2 separate regions of the Homo sapiens genome follow, and region 2 is linked to region 1. The links come from fine-mapping of genetic effects on gene expression. A gene starts in region 1. The other region holds a variant in brackets. All regions are shown on one strand. Distances are between the middles of the regions.

Region 1 (2,905 bases):
GGATTTTCAGGCGGTGCAGAATGACTTTTGAAAAGCAAACGCTACTTTTAAACCTCCATTGACAACTTGTCTCTCTGAACGCATTTCTAGCTCAGCCTCAGAGCATTAGGCGGGAGAAGGGTGGCTTTGAGTGTTCTCTGCTCAGAGCCTGGGGCCGATACTGGACCCGCGGCGCCGCGCGAAGGCTCAGGGCACCCATGTGCGCACCTCCGTTTAACCAAATGAACCCGAGACCTTCGCCAGGGCGCGGGGAGCAGGAAAGCGACGCTCTCCTTTTTCTACGCCCTGGGCGCGCCCCGGGACTCGGGCAGCTGCTGCCCTGGCAGAGCCTAGGCCTTGCTCCCCGCCTGCCCCGCGGCTCCTGGGGCTGGAGACCGCCTCTCCCCGCCCTTCCCGCCGCCGCATCCGCGCGGCCACTCGGCCGCACACGCACATAATAAAAAAGGTCGGAAAAACCACACGGCTACCTTTCGTGAGCCCTGCGGGCGCCATACGTTAACTCCTTTAAATTCCTCCAACCCAAAGCAGGGCCGTCACTCCCATTGTAGAGAAGAGGACACTGAGGTGAAGGAGCCCCGGACAGGACCGCTGGTGAGGTAGTTCCCGTCGCGAGGGACGCACCCACCTCCCCATCCGCGCTCCCCCACCGCAAAGGACTCATTTGAGAGAACCCGCAGAGAGCCCCTGGTTTCTGCCAAGCTGGGGTCCCTGGTGAGCTGCGCGATGAGTGAGCGTTCCTCTAGGGCCCGCACAGAGACCCTAGCGGTTGCGGAAAGGGGATGCAAAGAACCGGGCCTTCCCTCCTGGAGCACCAGCCCCACAGTGCCGAAGCTGTGGATGGGGAGCTGTGGACAGGGAGCACACAGCCGGGAGGAAGGAGCGCACAGAGCGGAGCACCTCTCCTGGATGCCAGTTCCACAGGGTGACTGTGCTGGGGCTGGGGCAGGTCCGCACGGAACTCAGGGATGGGGAACAAACACCGTGTCCCTCAGCCACGCCCCCTCCTCATCCGCGGGGCAGCTCTGGGTCTGGGGGGTCCGGGGTGGGAGATTCGGGACTCGGGACCAGCCTAACTTGCCCGGATCCCGGCGCCCAGCTGGGAGCGCCCTTCTGGATTAGGGGCGGCTCGGCACCCGCAGAGGCGCTGTTGATGGGATCCGAGCCCCCGCCGAGGCCCCCGCCGCACCCCTCGCTTCGGCTGCCCTCACCCCGAGCTCCCCCGGAACCGGGAAGTTCGCATGCGTCGGCGCGCCAGGCACCCGCCCCGGCCTTACCTTTGCCCAGCAGCGCGCCCAGCAGCAGGCTCAGCGCCCCGCACAGCGGCGCCGCCGGCCCGGGGGCCGCACCCTCGGAGCGCATCCTGCGTCCCGGCCGCTCACGCAGCCCGCCGCCAGCCCGAAGCGCAGCGCCCGCCCGCGGCCCCCGCCGGCCGCCCCATGCCCGGGGCCACTCCCGCAGCCCGGTCGGCCGGGCCCGCTGCGTCTCTGCTGTCCGAGGCCCGCCCCTGCCGGGTCCACGCCGCCGCAGCTCCGGCTCTGGCTCTGGCGGCTCCGGCTCCGCCGCTGCTCGCGCTCCGGCCGGGACAACTTTTCTCCCGCAGCCTCCGCAGCCTCCGCAGCCGCCGGCCCGCCCCGCCCCCGGCCCCGCCCCCGCCCCCGCCCGGGCCCCGCCCCCGCCGAGCCCCGCGACCGCGGACAGATTGAGGGTGCGGTAGGAGAGAGTTCGCCTGCCCGCCGGGAGGGGCGGCAGATGGAGAACCCCCCCGCCCGGGCTAGGGAGGGTGTGCCCGGGAAAGAAGACCGGGAGAGGAGGGGGCGTCTCCCCAGGCGGCTGGGACGGCTCCTCCGGGGGTCCGCGCCTTTCCAGAGAAACTCAGCGTTCGCAGACTCCTGCCCGGGTGCCCAACGGACAGCGGCCCGTGGCCCGGAGGGTCCTGCCCAGGGACCCGACGCTCAAGGCGGAGCTGGACTCCTTCTCCCCACCCTCCCGTGGTCACTGCGGGACCTGGTGGTCGTCACGCCCCATTCCTCAACTTCAGGTGGCCGCTGCTTTAGCCTGGAGGGCTGGGGACATCTGGAATGCAAAGTCCCGCGCAGCTGCTGCGGGGAGAGCTCCTAACTGGATCACTGAGCGCGGAAAAGCAGCGCGCAGCGGAGCGTGAAGGCGGGGTGCGGGCTCAAGACAGATGCGGGTGTGCACCTGTGCGTGTGCGGAGGGGGCGAGGCACGAGATCACAGCGGTGTCTCTGGGAAGGGGACGAGAACGCAGAGGGGAAGAAAGGATCATTTTTCACTGCATGTCTGTGGGGCTTCCACTCCCCAATCATCTCCCCGCCGCCCATAGCATGTGTTTTATTATCTTTTCAGTGGGTGGAGAATAGCCCCTCTCTAGACTTGCTCCTGCAATAGGCAATTTCTCTGCAGACTCAGACAAGGAAGATCCGCCCTCCCCCCCCCCCCCCCGACTTCGTTCTCTCTATCTTTTCCCTCTGATTTCTCCAGGGCTGGCCTCCCTCATGGTGGTGATCCCAGGTGATCTCAGCGGCTTCCCTGTGCGGTTCCTGATGCTCATGCTCTGCTCTTTCTGCCACGCGTGGTCTGAGCAGTTTGAGGGCGGGACCCCGACTCCCCCCTTGTGACTGGGAATGAAGGGCCATGGGTTCGGAGGTCTCTGGACGTCCCCTCCTGTCCTGAGCTCCTCACCACGGGCTCAGCATCCCCTCTCACCGTGGGCTGGCTCGGTCCAACATCAAAAGGAAGCCTGAGGGGTCTTTTCTCACCATCAGTGCAGGAAAGAATTTCAAAAGAAAAAAAGAAGTCCTTGATTGAAAGAAAAGAAATGTAAACGAATGATCCCCAGCAACTGCAACCCCAAGTCTTATCTCCCAACTCAGCCCCTAAGGAAT
Region 2 (2,905 bases), 480 kb before region 1:
GTGAAACTGCTGGGCCATATGGAAAACTTTTGAGGAACCGCTGGGCTGTTTTCCACAGCAGCAACAAACTGCATGTTACGTTTCCATTAAGCTGTGCGTGAGCATCCCAATTTCTCCAGATTCTCACCAACACTTGCTGGGATCTTTTAATTAATTTATTAATTATAGAGATGGTCTTACCATCTTGCCCAGGCTGGTCTCAAACTCCTGGGCTCAAGCGATCCTCTTGCCTTGGCATCCAAAAGTGCTGGGATTACAGGTGAGAGCCACCCCGCTGATATGTCTTTTCAAATAAAGTCATATTAGTGGGTATAACTTTCTTTTAAATTTATCGACTTATCATGGAAGTATTAATGGATCAGTATATATCCATATATACTCACATAGTCACCAGCTGCTTCCTAATCCATTATATGAATGTAGCATTCTGTCTTTATCCCTTTGGCTAAGCATTTACATCAGTCATTTCCCATTTTTCAGCATCACAAACAAGGTGACAATGAATTCCTAGACATCTACAGTTTTCTCAACCAGTGTTCCCAAGAGAATTACACTCTCTTGCCCTGAGCCATCCATTGTATGTAAGGAATGAACTTTTCTCCCAGGGGTCTAGAAAGGTGTTAGTTATGTAACCACCCTCGAGAGAATTGATAAAATAGTCTCTCAAGCCACTTTCTATGTTCCGTGATTCACGTGAGCACCCCTGGTTGGGAAGACTACATGTGTTCAAATACCATTTCATATTGTTAGAGTAGAATTGCGAGCTGAGGTTTTCCTTTGACATTTGGGGCTATTTCTAAATTGCCCTCCAAACTGGTCACATCCATTCACAGGACCACAGTGTCCAGCATATGCCTGGAATATTATCATGTTTTACATTTTAATTTTTTATATTTATATAAGTGGAGATGGTGTCTCACTATGTTGCCCAGGCTGGTCTTGAACTCCTCGCCTCAAGACATCTTCCTGCTTCAGCCTCCTAATGTGCTGGGATTACAGGCATGAACCACCACGCCTGGCCATGTTTTAATCTTTGGTAACCCTAGAAGCCCCAAATTATTTGTCATAATTTTTTCCCTCCCATCCTTAGCGCAATTGAAAATCTTGTCAAATGTTTAACAGCCACTAGAATTTCTGTATTTAAGAATTTGTGTTAGAATTGAACATAATTACTCTTTGGGGAAACATGCATTTCCAATACCTGGGTGTACTTCAACATTTAATTCAAGACTTTCCTGACAACTGTTGGGGGCTAATTTTGTCCACCTGGTAAAATACGGTACCAAAATGTGTCAGTAGACAGCAGGCAGGTCTCAATGGACTTTATTTGACAGCTTTAAATTTATGTGACTCCTGATACATTTTTGACTTTAAGGGATTATATTTTAAAAAGTTTTGCTGATAATTGATCCTCTCAACTTTCTTTTTGTATTCACATAATTCCAATTCATGTTACTTACAACCCAAACTCTAGCACTCTTAAAATAACCAGAGAGTTGTGGAGCTTGATGGAAACATACACCCACTGGACTCCAGAACTTTCCATCATTTCATCCCAGGCAGTCCTGCATCCTCCTACCTAATTACTGAAAATA[T/C]GGTCAAAAGCCAAACAGTAGACTTATGTGTCAGTAACCTGGGACCTGGGGAATGTGTGTTCTCGGTAAAAAATCATCACATGACATTCTAGGATCTGTAATTACAGCTCACCTTCCAGGCACCGTCTTTATGATGTATTTGCAGCAACTATTCACATACCTGAAAACAGTCACCTGTCCTCACCCCGATCTTATTAAAAACATGTGTCTCATAGCCATATAGTAACCATATTTTGCATTTTTAAAAACCATTTTCTCTATTTCATAAAGCAAAGGCAAAATGTACTCCAGAAATATCAAATAATTGCTTTCACTGCATGGCTCCAAATAAAGAACTTTTTTTTTTCTTTCACTTCCATCCTCTTCCATCTACAGAGAGTTCTATTTTTTCCAGGCGAGTTCCCAGTTGGCTTGGAGGAAAGGCTGGAGAGAAACATGGGAGGGCGGAGGGGTTCAGGGGAGAGGGCTGTGGTGGAGAGAGACTGATTTTAATCATGTTGAGGTCCCAGATGTGCCTACAAAGTGGAAGATCCAGCAGTGGAGAGGAGCAGAGAGCCCCAACTGAGCCTGGAGGAACTGGGTCCCCCTCACCTGGGTCTGTGCCTCTGTTTCCCTCCAGAGCAAGGCAAGGGCATCTTCCAGAATGATGCCACTGTCCTGCCCACTTCACAGGCCCTGCACGGCTTGCACTTTCTAGTTTTTGTTTTTGTTCTGTTTTGTTTTTTGTTGAGACAGAGTCTCACTCTGTCCCCCAGGCTGGAGTGCAGTGGCATGATCTCGGCTCACTGCAACCTCCGCCTCCCGGGTTCAAGCGATTCTTCTGCCTCAGCCTGCCGAGTAGCTGGGACTACAGGCGCCCGCCACCATGCCCAGCTAATTTTTGTAATTTTAGTAGAGATGGAGTTTCACCGTATTGGCCCGACTGGTCTCAAACTCCTGAGCTCATGATCTGCCCGCCTCGGCCTCCCAAAGTGCTGGGATTACAGGCGTGAGCCACCACACCCAGCCTGTGCTTTCTAGTTTTTATACATTATCTTTCGAATAGCCTTTTTACATTTAGGGGATGTCTTAGTTTCCCATTGCTGATGTAACAGATACCACCAACTGAAGTGGCTGAAGATGACACACACTTATCATTTCACAGTTCTGCAGGTCAGGAGTCAGAATGCATCTCAAGGGGCTGCTCATCCTCAAGGTGTCTGTGGGGCTGCGTTTCTTCAGGAGGCTCTGGGCAGGAGCTCTTTTCTTGTCTTTTCCAGCTTTGAGAGGCTGCCGGCGTTCCTGGGCTCATGGTCCCTTCTGCGTCCTGA

What was found. PIP is the estimated chance that this variant, and not a neighbour inherited with it, causes the effect.
Region 2: its variant is the best candidate, but not a certain one, in a credible set for the expression of TMEM132C in whole blood (TOPMed, PIP 0.83).

What each region holds. Positions count from the first base shown.
Region 1 is chr12:128,265,857-128,268,761 of GRCh38, reverse strand. TMEM132C (transmembrane protein 132C) reads right to left here and starts at 1,592. Exons shown (of 9, transcript NM_001136103.3): 1 at 1,275-1,592. The coding sequence starts at 1,359. LOC107987176 (a long non-coding RNA gene) reads left to right here and starts at 1,730. Exons shown (of 2, transcript XR_001749176.1): 1 at 1,730-2,191. RefSeq lists enhancers at 551-1,389, 1,925-2,446.
Region 2 is chr12:128,748,197-128,751,101 of GRCh38, reverse strand. No RefSeq gene overlaps it. Among named protein-coding and RNA genes, the nearest start is that of SLC15A4, 74 kb to the left of the region's middle. The variant T/C (reference allele first, on the strand shown) is at 1,596.